Linked DNA regions of Homo sapiens: region 1 is linked to region 2. Evidence: fine-mapped expression QTL. A gene starts in region 2. The other region holds a variant in brackets. All regions are shown on one strand. Distances are between the middles of the regions. Region 1 holds the start of LINC01115 (long intergenic non-protein coding RNA 1115). Region 2 holds the start of LINC01939 (long intergenic non-protein coding RNA 1939).

Evidence for each region. PIP is the estimated chance that this variant, and not a neighbour inherited with it, causes the effect.
Region 1: its variant is the best candidate, but not a certain one, in a credible set for the expression of LINC01939 in prefrontal cortex (CommonMind, PIP 0.55).

The regions. Positions count from the first base shown.
Region 1 is chr2:868,094-876,426 of GRCh38, forward strand. It overlaps LINC01115 (long intergenic non-protein coding RNA 1115), which reads right to left and starts at 333. Exons shown (of 3, transcript NR_111963.1): 1 at 25-333. RefSeq lists an enhancer at 150-1,349. The variant A/C (reference allele first, on the strand shown) is at 4,383.
Region 2 is chr2:900,783-909,115 of GRCh38, forward strand. LINC01939 (long intergenic non-protein coding RNA 1939) reads right to left here and starts at 4,669. Exons shown (of 4, transcript NR_110179.1): 1 at 4,438-4,669; 2 at 1,110-1,177; 3 at 780-936.

The DNA of each region.
Region 1 (8,333 bases), 33 kb before region 2:
AGTCTGGGAGCTGATAAATCTCACCTGGTCAAGTGGGAGCCTCTGGTGTCTGAGACGGCAATGGGTGCGCCCTTTGTCTAGACGGCAGGAGCAGGAGCCAAGATTTAAACGTCAGTGCCTCGATCCAATTTCCATGTAAATACACTGCCTGCGAGGTGCGTGGACTCGGGAGCTCTGACGTAAACGCGCTGCCTGCGAGGTCGGTGGACTCGGGAGCTCTGAGGTAAACGTACTGCCTGCGAGGTGCGTGGACTCGGGAGCTCTGACGTAAACGCGCTGCCTGCGAGGTCCGTGGACTCGGGCGCTCTGACGTAAACGCGCTGCCTGCGAGGTGCGTGGACTCGGGAGCTCTGATGTAAACGCGCTGCCTGCGAGGTGTGTGGACTCGGGAGCTCTCACGTAAACGCGCTGCCTGCGAGGTCGGTGGACTCGGGAGCTCTGAGGTAAACGCGCTGCCTGCGAGGTGCGTGGACTCGGGCGCTCTGACATAAACGCGCTGCCTGCGAGGTCCGTGGACTCGGGCGCTCTGACGTAAACGCGCTGCCTGCGAGGTGCGTGGACTCGGGCGCTCTGACCTAAACGCGCTGCCTGCGAGGTCCGTGGACTCGGGAGCTCTGATGTAAACGCGCTGCCTGCGAGGTGTGTGGACTCGGGAGCTCTCACGTAAACGCGCTGCCTGCGAGGTCGGTGGACTCGGGAGCTCTGAGGTAAACGCGCTGCCTGCGAGGTGCGTGGACTCGGGCGCTCTGACGTAAACGCGCTGCCTGCGAGGTCGGTGGACTCGGGAGCTCTGAGGTAAACGCGCTGCCTGCGAGGTGCGTGGACTCGGGAGCTCTGACGTAAACGCGCTGCCTGCGAGGTCCGTGGACTCGGGAGCTCTGATGTAAACGCGCTGCCTGCGAGGTGCGTGGACTCGGGAGCTCTCACGTAAACGCGCTGCCTGCGAGGTGCGTGGACTCGGGAGCTCTGAGGTAAACGCGCTGCCTGCGAGATGCGTGGACTCGGGCGCTCTGACGTAAACGCGCTGCCTGCGAGGTGCGTGGACTCGGGAGCTCTCACGTAAACGCGCTGCCTGCGAGGTGCGTGGACTCGGGAGCTCTCACGTAAACGCGCTGCCTGCGAGGTCGGTGGACTCGGGAGCTCTGAGGTAAACGCGCTGCCTGCGAGGTGCGTGGACTCGGGCGCTCTGACGTAAACGCGCTGCCTGCGAGGTCGGTGGACTCGGGAGCTCTGAGGTAAACGCGCTGCCTGCGAGGTGCGTGGACTCGGGAGCTCTGACGTAAACGCGCTGCCTGCGGGGTGTGTGGACTCGGGAACTCTGCAGCTTCTTTCAGCTCCAGTTTCCTTGTGGACAAATGAAATGTAGTAGCTCCCACTCATCCTCACGGGGCACATTCCAGACCCGGTGGGTGTCTGGGACTGTGGATGGCACTAAACCCGACGGCCGTCAGTCAGAACTTGTTTATCCTTAAGTCTTCCACCCACACATTCAATACCTGATATGGTTTGGACTTGTGTCCCCACCCGAATCTCATGTTGAATTGTAGTCCCCAGTGCTGGAGGTGGGACCTGGTGGGAGGCGACTGGATCATGGGGGTGGATTTGCCCCTGGAGGTGGGACCTGGTGGGAGGTAACTGGATCATGGGGGCGGATTTCCCCCTTGCTGTTCTCACGAGGGTGAGTGAATTCTCAGGAGATCTGGTTGTTGAAAATTGTGTGGTGCCGACCTCCTGTGTTCTTCCTGTGGTTAAAACTTTTGCAGTTTGAGGTGCAACAGCAAAACTAGCAGGAATTTCTTTTTCTTTCTATGCAATTTCAGAGATAGAAGATTTGTTCTTATGGTAGATATTAGCAACCTCAGCATACAATTTTTTCCTTCCTTCTTAAGTAGAGAACTTTCACCTTTTCACTTAAAGGGAGCACTTTACAGCTTCTCTTTGCCATCTACAAGCTGCCAGCCTCACTGCTCTTCTGATCTGGAGCCCTTGGTAAGCAAAATAAGGGCTGCCTGAACTCAGGCACTTGTGATCTGCATCAGTGGACCTGCTGACCCAGGAGAGCTACTAAGCCACTAACAGGCATGTGGTGTGCACAGCATGGATCTGCTGGGCAAAGAGATGACCCGGTCCTGGTCAGGATGGAGCAGGACAGTGCAAGATTTAGTCATAATGCTCAGAATAGCATGAAAGTTTGAGACCAGTCTGGCCAACGTAGTGAAACCCCATCTCTACTAAAAAAAAGTACAAAAATTACCTGGGCGTGGTGGTGGATGCCTGTCATCCCAGCTACTTGGGAGACTGAGGTAGGCGAATTGCTTGAACCTGGGAGGTGGAGGTTGCAGCGAGCCGAGATCCTGCCACTGTCTCAAAAATAAATAAAAATAAATAAATAATAAAGCCTATAGAAGCAGTCTTTCTGCAGCCCCAGGTCCTGCTCACTCATGTCCTCATCCAGAAAACATTCTGGAGCAGCCACTTCGTGTCTGCACGGTGCAGGCAGGGGTGCAGCTAGGGTGCAGGTGTGCAAGGCATCCACACCCCGCAGGATGGTGCAGACACAGACGTCAGCCACTTCCCCACGGGCCACCTGCATGACTGCTCATGGCAGGCTCCTAAACTGGAGTCTCTTCTCCGCAAAAATTGCATGTGCCTGCCTAGATCTTAACAGGAAAAATAATAAAACTTGCTGGTCAAAGTTAATTTAAAATGTCTCCATTAGTGTAGAGGACACTCACTCTCCACCTGCTTTATTTATCCTAATATTAGGTGCCGTCTGACTTCCACAGCCTGACATTTTGTGGTTCGGTTATTCCTGTGTACTTGTATTTTGTGTTGACTAAACCAATATAATTCAGCAATGCTTCTTGGGGAATGTGTGACTTCATTTTTAAATTGATATCTTCCCTGACTGAAAAACCTCCAATACTCAACAAACATGCCCTGAGCTCCCACTGTAGCCTCCGAGCCCTATAAGCCAGGGGCGTGTGAGATGCCAGGATCTTCCTGTCCTGCAGAAGAGGATGACACAGGCGGCAGGAAGACGGCGCCGGGATCTTCCTGTCCTGCAGAAGAGGATGACACAGACAGCGGGAAGATGGCGCCTCCAGGATCTTTCCGTCCTGCAGAAGAGGATGACACAGGTGGCGGGAAGACAGCACCGGGATCTTGCCATCCTGCAGAAGAGGATGACACAGGTGGCGGGAAGATGGCGCTGGGATCTTCCCGTCCTGCAGAAGAGGATGACACAGGTGGCAGGAAGACGGTGCCTCCGGGGTCTTCCCGTCCTGCAGAAGAGGATGACACAGGCAGGAGGAAGACACAGGCAGGAGGAAGATGGCACGTCTGGGCACCAGACCCCGGATGAGAGGACTGCACGCCTCTTCCCGTTGACATCGGCCTTGAGAAGACGACGCACCCCACACCTGTGCAGAGGCCCTTCCTGGCTTTGTCACGATTCTCACAAGCACATTCGGATGGCACCGCTCCTTCCACGTGTGTGAGATCGCAGACCTCAGCCCAGTGCAATATGAGCCCGAAATAACCACTGCTGCTGCCACCAGTGAGGTGTGGGATTATGGCTGCTGCAGCCTGGAGAGCCAAGTCCCTCTGATGTTGTAGGGCCAATGGATGCCACTGGAGGGGATGCAGGAGACAGACACAGGGGCTGGTCCAGTGGCAGTGAGTGCCCGGCCCTAACAGTGCAGGGCGCCTGTCACCCCTCAGGGACTGGAGATGTGCCCAGGGAACCTCAAAGGCAAGAACAAGACTGAGGCCCCAAGGGCAGCTGTGGGGACGTCCAGCCTAGCTGCCAGCCTGGGGTCCTGGGCAGAGGTTGGTGGCTAAAATGCAGAGATGCAGGGCACAGCTCAGCAGAAAAGAGCCCTGATGACATGGCCCATGATCGGGAGGACGGAGGGTGATGCTCAGAGCCCCAGGGCCCAGCTCCCCTCCTGGGGACTGCGCGGCAGCAGGGGTGGCAGAAGGAGGAGGCACGAGGGTGTGGGCACTGGCCGGGTGCCAGGCTGAGAGGGAGCCACAGCAAACGCCCCTTGGCTTTGGCATGGGCAGGACAGCCAGGCCCCGCCAGGATGGCAGGTGCTCTGGGTGGCTGTGGTCTCCAGCCTTGATTCAGCAGCTCTGATCCTCCACACACAGGCCGGCTGCATGCGCCTTGGGGAGGCCGCTTCCTGCTCCCTTTGGCTCTTCCAGAAGGTTCAGACGATGAGCACTGCCACTTACTTTAAAGCCTTTAATAAGCATCTTTGAAAATACGCTTTTTAAGAAATGGATAATTAAATACTTCCCAGACCTAGAAACACAAAGACTCAGCAGAGCACCTTGGAATGACCCAGGCACGAGCTTCCTGCACCTGCCAAGTGCCT[A/C]TTCCACGATGCCCGGCTCCTCCACTCGGGAAACCCCTTCCTCCCATCCTCCTCCCCGGACCCCATCCTGGGGGTTCACTCCTTTGCACGGAGGCATTTTGAAACCAAAAGTCACAGTTTGTGCACAGTGATGGAGAAGCTTATTATTACCTGCCCTACATCAATTAAATGTGTCACAGTTTGAGGCTTCCCATTAAATAATTTCTGTCCCAGGCTAAGTTCTACTTCAGGAAGTAAAGTAAGAAAGGGCATTTAATTCCTGTCTATGCCAGCATTACAACCACACAGAGAGATGCAAATTGATTTCCGTCTTCATGTGGAGAGTCTCTCGCTGGTTTTTCAGAAAATGACCTTCCATTCACTGACATTCTCAAAAGACATTAAATAAAAATATTTAATCAAAGAAAAAATGGTTATGAATATGGCTGTAAACCAGCATTTCAGGATAACACTTCATAACCAGTTCAAGACCTGACAAACTTATTTCTTTGTAAACGGACATGAATTTTTTTTCCAGTTGCATTCTAAAATGGCCATTTTTTTTCTCAAGTACCAAATTTTTTTTGTGAAGTGGTTCAGGTTGCTAATAATGCATAATAACTAACCTGAATCATAAGGAACACCACCTGGCCACAGCCCCTCCTTTAGGGCTCTTTCTGTCACAAGGCGGGAACCCATGGGCACCGAGGTGGCCTCTGACCAGGAGCCTTTTCCAGTTCTCACTGCTCACAGTGCACACCCGGCAGCTTCCTTCCCACCTGAACTGCGGCTCCTCCCTGCAGCATCTCAGCAGCCCTGGTAAGCCTGGGCTGAGGCCAAATACACATGAGAAAGTCAAGCTTGCATGGTGGCAATGCCTGGAAATCAGTTGTTTCTAGAAAAGTCCACAGTGAGTGAGCAGATGATGCCAGGTGTCCCACAGTGAGTGAGCAGGTAACCCCAGGTGTCCCACAGTGAGTGAGCGGGTGACCCCAGGTGTCCCACAGTGAGTGAGCGGATGACCCCAGGTGTCCCACAGTGAGTGAGCGGATGACCCCAGGTGTCCCACAGTGAGTGAGCGGGTGACCCCAGGTGTCCCACAGTGAGTGAGCGGGTGACCCCAGGTGTCCCACAGTGAGTGAGCGGGTGACCCCAGGTGTTTCCACACAGAGTTAGGCTTGTGTTTTTGAAAATAAGTGCATTGGCTCTAACATGTAGCAATGCACTTCATTCAAATCATCATCATTTACAGGTTTACCATCTACCCTTAGACCGCTTCTGAAAACCAGAGAAGCACCCATGAAAGTGGGAGGTTTTACTACGGGAGGAACCGTGGTGTTGCCCAGGAGCCCTGCGGCGTTCACCTTTACTCAGTCCCTCACCTGCCGTGCCTGACACCCGCCAGCAACACACACTTGGGACCAGTCCTGCTGCCCTGTCACCCGGCATGGCTGACCCTGACCGGGGCCTTTTCCGAGCTGCTGTAGCTCATCTCAGCCCAATGCCACTGGGAGACATTGCAGCACATCTCTCACCTTCGACTGTGGAATATTTGAGGACAGGCCTGTGACTCACCAGATCATGGCTGGCACTCAGCACAGGGGCTCATTCTAAATGCAAGAAGGGGCACACCAGGGGCGTGCCCAGCCCCTCCTCTCACCAAGCGCAGGTGGTCAGCACGACTGCATGGAGCCCTGTGTGCACTGGGACGGGCTGAGGGCTGTCACTCCACCACAGCCGAGGCTCGTGTTTACCGCATGTCACTGGACGTGCATCCCCTGCACAAGTCCACGTTCACCTTCTATCCATGGTGACTCCCATTTCAAAGCTGAGGCTGCTGGCGAGCAGAGGTGAGGCAATTTGCATGCAGTGATGTCACAGCCGGCACACAGCGGAACCAGGAGTCACATGCATGGGCTCTGACTCCACAATGCCTGGGTTTCCCTCTGCGCCCTGTGCCCTCCTCCAAGTTTATAAAGCCCAGCTCTGGGTCACTGAGCAGCTGAGTGGTCACGCCTCTTACAGAGACTCACTTCCCTCACTTGGAGGGTTGCTGAACCTTCCCGTGAGGACACTGTGTATGCCTGGAAGCTTTGCGCAGAGCTTGGAGCCCTGTAAGTGCTCCTTGTCTCTGCGTTAATTACACAGATGCAAAGACCCTCCGTTTCGGCGATGCCTCTCTTGTGAACCCTTCCCGGAACACCCAGGCAGGCCTTTCTGCTCTGGTCTCTGTGCATCTGGGGAACCTTGTTTAAACTCCCTTCATAGCATAAATTATGTTGCCTCATAGTGGTTTGTTTGTGTTTCTACTTTCCTGAATATTATTTAAGGGAAAGAACAAAAAGAAAGGCTTTCTGCATCTACCAAAATCTAGCAGAAGAGGTGTTCAACACGTAGCTGATAACCTCCAGGAATCAGTGAAGAAACCAGCAGCACCAAACGCTACGAGAGCCGGAGGACCAGAGGCTCGGCGAGACCAGGGTGTGGGTTAAAGGCGGAAGGTTGCGGTGCTGCAGGTTGGGTACATCTAGAGATCCAGGGTACAGCAGGAGAACTGGGGTTAATAATGTGTCACATATGGAAAATTTGCTAAGGAAGTGGGTTTTAGTTGCATAAAAGAAGCAACTATGAAAAGTGATGGAAATATTAATTTGTTTACCACCTGTAGTCATCACTTTACTATGTAAGTGTATACCGAAGCATCATGTTGCACACCTTAAATACAATAAAAAGAAAGTAAGAGTGAATTGAAATATTCCAACTTAGAGTAGGCAGGGCTGAGTTCAATCATTGGTGCTACCAAATTAATTCAAATCACATATACAGTATAGAATTTCTAAAAAATCCCTTGTTGTATCAACAGAGGGGTAACATACCTATTTATTATTAGCATATTAATATTTGACCCAATTGTGTAATAAACCGTGATGCTTAGGAGCCAAAAAGTAATTGATGCTTCTTTCCTAGAGAAGTCATCTTGGAAAAGGCTGATCAGGAGAGAGGCATCTGAGCTGTGCATTGACAGATCTTTGGGGATGTCAGACAGACAGTTAGGAGGCTCTTCCAGGCAAAGGAGAGACACAGGAGCACATTAAAGATATCCTTTCTGTTGGCAACGGGGAAAAATGTAGAGTCCTCTTTGGTAGGGAGCAGTGAATGAGGGTGCCCACGTTCAGAAACTGTGCATGAGGGCAGAGCCTGGGTGGAATGAGGCTGGAGAGGCTGGACGCTGCCCATCGTGAGGCCAGGCCCATGTGAGACGCACCCTGCTGTATCTGGGGTGCAGACCACACAGCTGTGGCGGACATGGATAATTCGCTTCCTCAACATCGGCCCCCTCTGGCTTCTGCGGAGTCTGCCAGGGAGCTCGACTCTGCCCTTCCAAGATCCTTGCTGCCGAGATCCCCATGGGAACCTAGGCTTTACCATCAGACACACGGGCTGCAGACTTGGATGCGAGAATGAGGTGACGGGGGAGCCCCAGCAGGGTGGCCGGTTCTGCGGGAGGCGGCTTCTGCAATTGGTTTCTGCTCCTGCAGAATCCCAGAGTCTTCCTGACCTCACAGAGCATGTTCTCAGGGTGATCCTGCGACGGATTGAAGGCCCACGCATCCCAGATGCTGCGTCTTAGCCAGGATTATAAACAACTCACCCCCAAAAGCCCACCTTCCGAAGGGCACCTGTACACTGCGACAGTCGTTCATAGAATTCTCCTAACTAAGCAGGTCCGGGATGGCCTGAGGGAGTGGGGATTGGGATCAGGCACAGCATTGGATCCAGGATCCCTCAGCTCTCTATAGCTGAGGCTAAGCAAGAGGGCGTCATGCTCTTTGCAGCCAGTTCTCCATCAGAGTTGGTGAGTTAGGGCAACTAGGGGAAGGAGGAGAGACCCCTGCCTCAAAACCCAGGTCTTCAGCCACCCTCTCCTGGGCTCAGAGAATCAGGAGCCTGCATCCAGGCCAGGTCTGGCAT
Region 2 (8,333 bases):
ATTTCATTAAAGCCTAAAATGAAAACTTGAGTCAAAAATATCTTTACATTGCTTTTCTGATGAAATTGTATTTAGATACAAATCTTTTATTATCATGCAATAAATATTTCTATGATTCATAGTAGAAATGCTTTTGCAATTCATGATTGAAAGTCTAAATGGGAGAATATTGATCCTCATATGTCTCTATTCACATACATAACCTGACATTTCATTTAGAATGTAAACCATATAGGTAGGTTAATAGTTGTGATGTTATTGCTTCTTGATATTTAAAGAAAACATATTCAATGATCCAATAAATGAAGTCCATATGTATTGGCTCTAGATAGAAGATAAGGAATATGTTACTTTAATTTTGCTTTGGATACTACACTTTATTTGGTGATGAAAATATACAACTGAAGATTTTGGAAAAAGTCTAAAATCCTTTATTATTCTAACATTGTATGACTTGAGTTACCCACTGGCTGCAAGAAATTCTGGTAGGCAGCACAAGGAAATCATACAATAAAGACTAAAATCAGTGGGAAGTTGGTAGATTTGTGGACTTCTACCCAGTGACAAATTATGTAGAATTTTTAGAAAGTTCATTTTCACTGGTAGAATTATCTAAACTTTTAAAGCAAAAACTAAATAATGTATTTTAATGATAGATTTTCATGGTGGAGAGTAAAGAAAGAACATTGAAAACCCACTAAAACCCCACAATCATTTCCTTTTTTTGTGGGGCGGGGAGCTTTATTATCAGTCAGCCTGTAATTTAGTTGATAAATTACCTGCATGTCTTCCTTTCCCTTTCCCTGGAAATAAAACAAAATAAGAGAGGAAGGTGCACTCTCCAACATTCGGCTGCACAGGCCAGGCTGCGTTCCTCCGCCAGGCATGTGATGTTTGGACAGGGGTGCTATTTTCTCTCTCAGAGTCCATCTGTGACTAGAGTAAAGTGAAAGGTTTAAAACCCATGAGTTGTATATATTATTATAAAAGGAAGGGCCTGGCCAGGTGCGGTGGCTCACACCGAGGCAGGTGGATCATGAGGTCAGGAGTTCGAGACCAGTCTGGCCAAGATGGTGAAACCCCATCTCTACTAAAAATGCAAAAATTACCTGGGTGCGGTGGCGGGCATCTGTAATCCCAACTACTCAGGAGGCTGAAGCAGGAGAATCGCTTGAACCTGGGGAAGCAGAGGTTGCAATGAGCTGAGATCATGCCACTGCACTCTAGCTGGGTGACAGAGCAAGACTGTGTCTCAAAACACAAACAAAAAAAAAAAAAAAAGGAAGGGCCTGATTGTTCATTTATTCATTTGTTCAATTAAAATTTCACTAAAAAAATTATTTTACAAGAAGATGCTAAAACATTGTTTTGTGTTTTTCTAATTTAAAAAAAGCAGTAGATGTTGATTATCTTTCCAGCCATGATGAAGTAACTGAGGCAGGCTTAACGTTCTGATGTAAACAACTACAAAATTGGGCAGAAGACAAGAGGCTGGGCATAGGATCCTGTGCTCACACCTCCATTAGGGGGTTTCTGGGATGCAGCCCCACTGTGGCCTCACTCTGCAGGTCACTCTTGAGAAGTCAGATGCCTACTTTGTTCTTTGGCCTGGATGAGGAATGTGATATTTTATCTTCAGGCCCTTAGGATTGTGTTTCATTATCTTTAAAGTTCAATAGTTTTATCTGGCTATGTCTTGGTTAAATATGCCAGGCCAGTTCCTGCAGGTCTCAGTAGGCCCTTCTGACATGTAGCGTCAATGCTTCTTTTGTTTCTGGAAAAGTTATCTAACTCTGGTTTCTCTAGCTCTGGCCCTAGGTTTGTTCAGGACTCCAGTTAGACATATGCTGGCTCTTTGTTGGCTCTCTTGCATGTCACCAATGTCACTCTGACCCTTTTTTTAATATAACTCATTTTGATAGTTCATTTTATGTGTCAACTTGCCTGGGCTATGGGGTGCCCAGGTTTTTGGTCAAACATTATTCTGGGTGTTTCCATGAGGGTGTCAGTGCCTGAGATTAATTTACTTTGGTGGACTTTAAGTAAAAAGCAGATTCCATAACATGGGGGTTGCACCAGGCCTTGCACCCCTAAAGGCCTAAAGACCCCCACTCCCTGGCTCTGAGAGAACTCTGCAGCCCACCTGCTTCAGACTCCAGCTGGAGCGTTGGCCCTCCTGGGTCTCTGGCCACCAGCCCAACCTGCAAACTGTGGACTTGCCAGCCCCATAATTACGTGAGCTCACTCTTCCTTCCAGGGATTCTGTTTCACTGGAGAACTCTCATAAATCATTTTAATTTTAATTTTTGTTGTTTTCTTGCCTTTCTTGAATGTCTCAAATTGTCACTCAATCCAACCATTCTTGGTTTTGGTCATTTTTATATTTCCTACTAAAAAGTCCTTTTCCTTGTTCAACCAACTGCTTGGTAAGGATATTTAATTTAAGGTGCAGTATTGTGCTCAGTTCCCTTCTCTGTCACGGTTGTTTTTTGGCAGTGCATTTTTATCACCTGAAATGGCTTGATTCTCATTTTGTGTTTTCTTCTACTAATAGCTTTTTATAACGCTGGGCTGCTTTTGTTTACTTATTTCTTCTGACCGTTAGAGGCAGCGGATAGGATTCCTTGTTCAAGAGCTCTCTCTTCTGTCAGTGCAGCAGCATTCTGTTTCTCGCTGCTGTCCTGGGGGAAAGTGGTGTGTCATCTGGTTTCTGCTCCTCTTTGGTCTTGCAGAACCCCACATTTTCCTCTCTTGCTTCTCTTTATTTCTTCACTCCTCTGCTTCCTAAGGGTCCTTCTTCCTTCTGATTTACCCTTTTCTTCAGAGGCAAAGCAGCTCTGGGCATGCCACGTGGGTCCTGGAGATGCATGTCTCCCTTCCCTGGAGCTGCCAGCCCCTGGGAGGCTTCTCTGCAGTTTTACCACCACAAAGTGGGTTTTGCTTAACGGCAGCTCCTGCTCCTTTTCTCCATGTCCCTCCTGTCCATGTGCCTGGACTTTCCTCAGTGTCCACCACTGTGTTACCTTTGGGATCAAAGGTAGTCGATCTGCTGTTGTATGTTGATTATTTCACCTGCAGGTGATTGAAACACACCACCTCTCTCTCCCAGGCTTGCCAAGGGAAGAGTTCTACGTAAAGTTGTTCTTCATGCTCATCTGCATAGTTATCTTGGAGATGTTTGAAAAGATTTAGATTCAGGTGGCTGCCAATATCTTCAGGCAACCCAAAGTCAAATTAACGTTTTTATTTTATGTAAATCAATGATTAGAAAATTGATTTTACATATTTTACATAATTATCACCATGGGACTCATTATTTTGTTGCCACTCGTCAACCTGTTAATTCTGCATTTATAGTGATTTGTAATAGTTTTTCTAATTAAGGCAAACTAAACGAAATCAGTTAATAACGAAGTAGATTTTATCCCTCATGTACGCTAATATAGACTAACATGAAATCCCATAATTTATCTTATCTCAAAGCACATTTTTATACCAGGCAGCTGATTTGGTTTCTGCCCTCAGTCTATTCTCTCTCACACAGACTCCCCTTTTCTTTTTCTCTGTTTCTGTTTTTCCTGTCCTTCGCACCCTCAGCAGGGAGCTCAACTTCCTGGCACTATTCTCACACACATGTCAGGTGTAAACATCTTTATGGGGGAAACAGGCTCTGGCTGTCTCACAAAGCTTTAGTTGTCATGCACATGTAACACTTTCATTCACTTCTTAAAGGTGATTTACATGAGCCTCGCACAGCTGAGACGTATTTCGCTGCTTACTAAACCTTGAATGATGGTGCGTCATTCTCATTAAAACAAGGAAGCACAGGAAGGTGGAAGTATAAATTTTTGTGAGTGTTTCTGGCCCACTATGAAAGTGCGACAGCGGGCATGGCTGTCTAGGCCTCCCTGGCAGCACTGGTGTGGGGGCTCCCAGGAAGGAGTAGAGGAGGGTTAGGAAAAGGATGGGAGGGCCACGGGCCTGGCAGCTGAGCAGCACCTGGGCCCTCACAGCTCAGATTGCAGAGCAAAGAGGGAGCCACGTGTGGAGGGTGGGGAACATGGAGCGAGAAGGGGAGGGAAGCACAAAAGGGAGCACAAGAGGAGAGAATGGAGGGGAGCATGGGAGGGAGCATAGAAGGGGGCATAGAGGAAACACAAAGGGAGCACTGGGGAGAGCATGAGAGGAACAGGGGAAGCACAGGCGAGGTAGCACAGGGGGGAGCACTAAGAGAGCACACCGCGGAGCTGCCTCCACCCAGGCCTGGCATGAGCAGGGTTGACCCCAGAGCCCAGACCCTTCCCCCAGGAGCACAGGGAACAGGCAGTGTTCCCCCACAGTGGGGGCGGGAAGGAGAGTCCAAGGGCCAAGGAAGGGCTGATGGTCCATTTCCTGTGGAATTGCGCCAACCTGATGGCATCCATAAGGCACACTTACCATGCTTGGGTTCTGTGGTCAAGTCCAGAAGAGGCACGTCCTGCTCAGGGCCCCATCGGCTACCCTCCGTCCCCAGTACCTGGAACTATGTATGGCACCAGCCCTGGGGCAGGCACGGGCCTTGGCTTCTGAGCTCCAGGGATGCCCCAGACCCCCTCCCTTAGCTTCTGCTTCTTGGCCTCACATCCAACTGCTGCAACGGCACCTCTGCACCTGCTGGTGGGGGTGACGCCTGTCCCTTCTGCACCTGCCAGCCAGGGATTATGACCTGTCCTTTCTGTACCTGCCAGACAAGGATTATGACCTGTCCCTTCTGCACCTGCTGGCTGGGGATTATGACCTGTCCCTTCTGTACCTGCCAGGTCGGGGGTGATGCCTATCCTTTCTGCACCTGCTGGCTGGGATTATGACCTGTCCCTTCTGCACCTGCCGGCTGGGGGTTACGACCTGTCTCTTCTGCATGTGCTGGCCAGAGGTGATGTCTGTCCAGTCCACATATGCCGGCATGGGGGCTGACTGGTCTGTCTCTCTACATCTGTGGGCTGTGGTGACTGGTCTGTCTCATCTATCATCTACACCCACCAGCTGGGTATAATGCCACAGACTCTGCCTGCTCCTGCGCTGGCACATGCTGTAGCTCCTGGGGAGTAACCTGAGGAGTTACCTGGGGTGTGTCTGGCGCAGGTGACCTCTGCATGTCACTGGCATTGCAGCAGAAGCCGGCAGAGGACCCAGGCCAGCAGAGCTCCTTCCCTCTTAGCTGTTGGCCAGGAACCCCCTCTCAGGAGCTGAGGGCACCTCTGGATGGAGGGCAAGACAAAAACATGTTCTAATCAGAGAAAATGGTTGGTGGAGTGCTCTAAGTGCAGGATGGGTGGATCTGAGAGCTGGGGGTCCTTTGCTTCTCCCGCCCTCACGGCAGGGCTGGTGCAGAGGGGATCGGCCCAGAGGTCTGAGGGGCTCTAAGAGCAGGAGATAAGAATTGCAGGAAGGTTCCCGGGAGCAGATTTTAACTAAACAGTATTAGTTAAGCTGCATTTCCATAACTAATCAATTTTAATTAACAGAGCCCATGTATCTGGAGTTAATTTTGCTATGTTCTTAATAGGAATAGGAGAATCTTTCCTATAACAGCCATATAGAAAATGTATTTCTTCAGCCATATTCTTTCTAACTAGTGTGGACCTGCTTAAGAATGCACTGTCCTGTATCTTATCTCAAACAGGAATTTATCTAGTCTATATTCGAGATTATCATGAAATCATATTAGTACTTTATGAGCTAAAGCATTTTGAATCACGTTCCAAATATTATGTATACTCCATAATTTCCTGTATAGATCATTAAATTCCCATATATCCCAATTTAAGTAAAAATACATTTTTAATTACCTGAGCTTCATAACCCCAACTTTACCATTTAATTAAAGCACAGACTTATCAAAGTCTCCAAAGCATGGGTGGGTCAAGTTTAATACTCATCTGGCCCACTTTCAATGCCCACTAGGTCCTTCTGGAAATGAACTTCTGAATAAGAAAGGATTATTAATTAGTAATTAGTATAATTAATTATTAATTATCTACATTAATTAGAATGAATGCACATAGCGCATATTATTAAAGTAAGTCACAGGAAATGGTGAAATCCTTTCTAAATCACTGATTCAAACAATAGTCAAAAGAGCTGACTACCTCATAAGACAGAAAATGTCATAGTCCTGCTCCAACGTTAATCTGTCCACTTCAAATATGTCAATTCTATTTACGGCAATTTGCCTACATTGAAATTCATTGATGTATGATAGTGCTAAGCTGGCCCTGTTTTAAGATACAGTTATGTGATCAGAAATTCAGAAATAAATAAATCATGTAAATTTTACTATTTTATTTTACTATTATGAGACTATACAAACTTTGCAAATGTTTATAGTGGAGTCACTTTATTGATTTGCATTAGAAAACTATATAGCAAGTAGATACATTGCCTTGCAAGGCAACAAATTCCCTCAAAGGGGGTTAAAATTATAGTAGAGCAGTGTTCTCTTTACTCTTTTATAAGGAAGATTCAAATGCCACATAGTCCCTCAATGAGATCACCTCAGAAGTCTCCTGCTGCTCTAGAGCCTATGATTGATTCTTCTTGGTCAAAAATAAACAGGTGCCAATCCTTGCCAACTGCCACTGTCTAATTAAGAGATCCATTTTCTCTTTGTTGGATAAATGTAGAGTCCTCAGCCTCCTGCCTCTCCTCCCTTTAATGGGGTTGAATTTGGGAAACGTTTCCCGGCAGGAGCAATGTTGTAATAGGCATAAGGGAGGCGTGTGTGGATCCAGCACACCTCTACTGGAGAGGAGTGGAAGGCAGACCACAGAGGTGGGGGACAGAGAAAGAAGGAGGCTTTAAATTCCTGCTGGAGTAGTACGGATTTTTTTCCTGTAATTGGTGGCAATCTCTGGAAGGTTGTTGGCTGGGAGAAGCACACCCAGGGGCAGCGGAGGAAGATTGATATTGTATTGTTGTTCCAAGTAGAATGGGATAAAAAGGAATTCACAGAGATCAAAGCTTCGGGACCTCATCTGTAGGCCACAGCACACTGTTTGCAATTCTCAGACCAGATCCAGACACTGCTCTTCTCAAGCCTCGGCACCCAGGGTCTTAGTCACCAGCAAGGCTCTCTCGAGCTTTTGCATCTAGGGACATACATCTTTCTTTTCCACCTGGTGATGTCACCTCCTGAAATGTCAGGTCAGATGGCTCATTCTCCATGTGGCGTATCTGCTTATACTGAGTTCCTCCCTTTATTCTTCTTCCTTGGTACTTTGGTTTTGCTAATCACATCCTTACTGCCATTTTCCGTAGATCGCAAGAACTCTTGTAGATAGATATTTGCCCCATTGATGCTGAGCTCTTTGCCTGGTCAGGATGATGCCCTGATCCTGTTTGCACCCCCATCCTCTCTAGGGCCCTAAAACAATGTCCCATGGTTGATGCACAGCAGATATTTGCTTTTTGTCACTGTTTTTTAATTCATCAGTACACCTGAAAAAAAATACTTACTTGTCTTTTCAATGTAAGCTTATAAAGTGATAAGTATTTTAAAATGTAATGGCCACACCTCAATAAGTGTCATTATCCTCCCACTAGGATAGACTTAATATGTAATGTTATAATTCTGTTTAAATAGTAGATTACGTTAGGAAAGGAGAGTAAAGAAATGTGACTTTGAACAAATAATATCTCTTCCCTTCAGGGTCAGAACTAGCTGGAGTTATTCTGATGATCATTACCTGATTGTTAAATTCAGTTTGGACAATTTGGAGTCTTTATGGACACAGAGTCCCCAAATGCAAGGTGCAGTAGACTGAATGTCTGTCCCCTCAAATCTGAAACGTTGAAATCATTTGGGAAAACTGAAATCAGTTGGTCTTTGGGAAGGCATGAGGGTGAAACCCTCCTGAATAGGATGAGTTCTCCCATAGAAGAGGCCCTGAGAGCTGCCCTGCCCCTTTCCCCAGGTGAAGACACAGCCAGATGGTGTCTTCTGGAAGGGAAGAGGGCCCTGCAGACACCGCATCGGCAAGCACCTTGGTCTCAGACTTCCAGCCTCCGGAGCTGTGAGACAGGTCTCTGTGGTTTAGAATCCACCCAGGCTGTGTGATTCTGCTGTAGCAGCCTTAATGGACTAAGATACAAGGTAAAATGTCATTTGCTAAAGGAAGTAAAAGAACTGGAGACATTAAAAATATACAGGAAACCTGCACATTTATCAGAAAAAATAAAAAGCTGTCATGTGCCCATGAAACCAAGTGCTAAAACAATATCTACAGTTTCTTATTTCATTGTAGTCAAATTGCTATCTGTTCTCGATGACCAACTTCAAACAGCCTCTTGTCTCT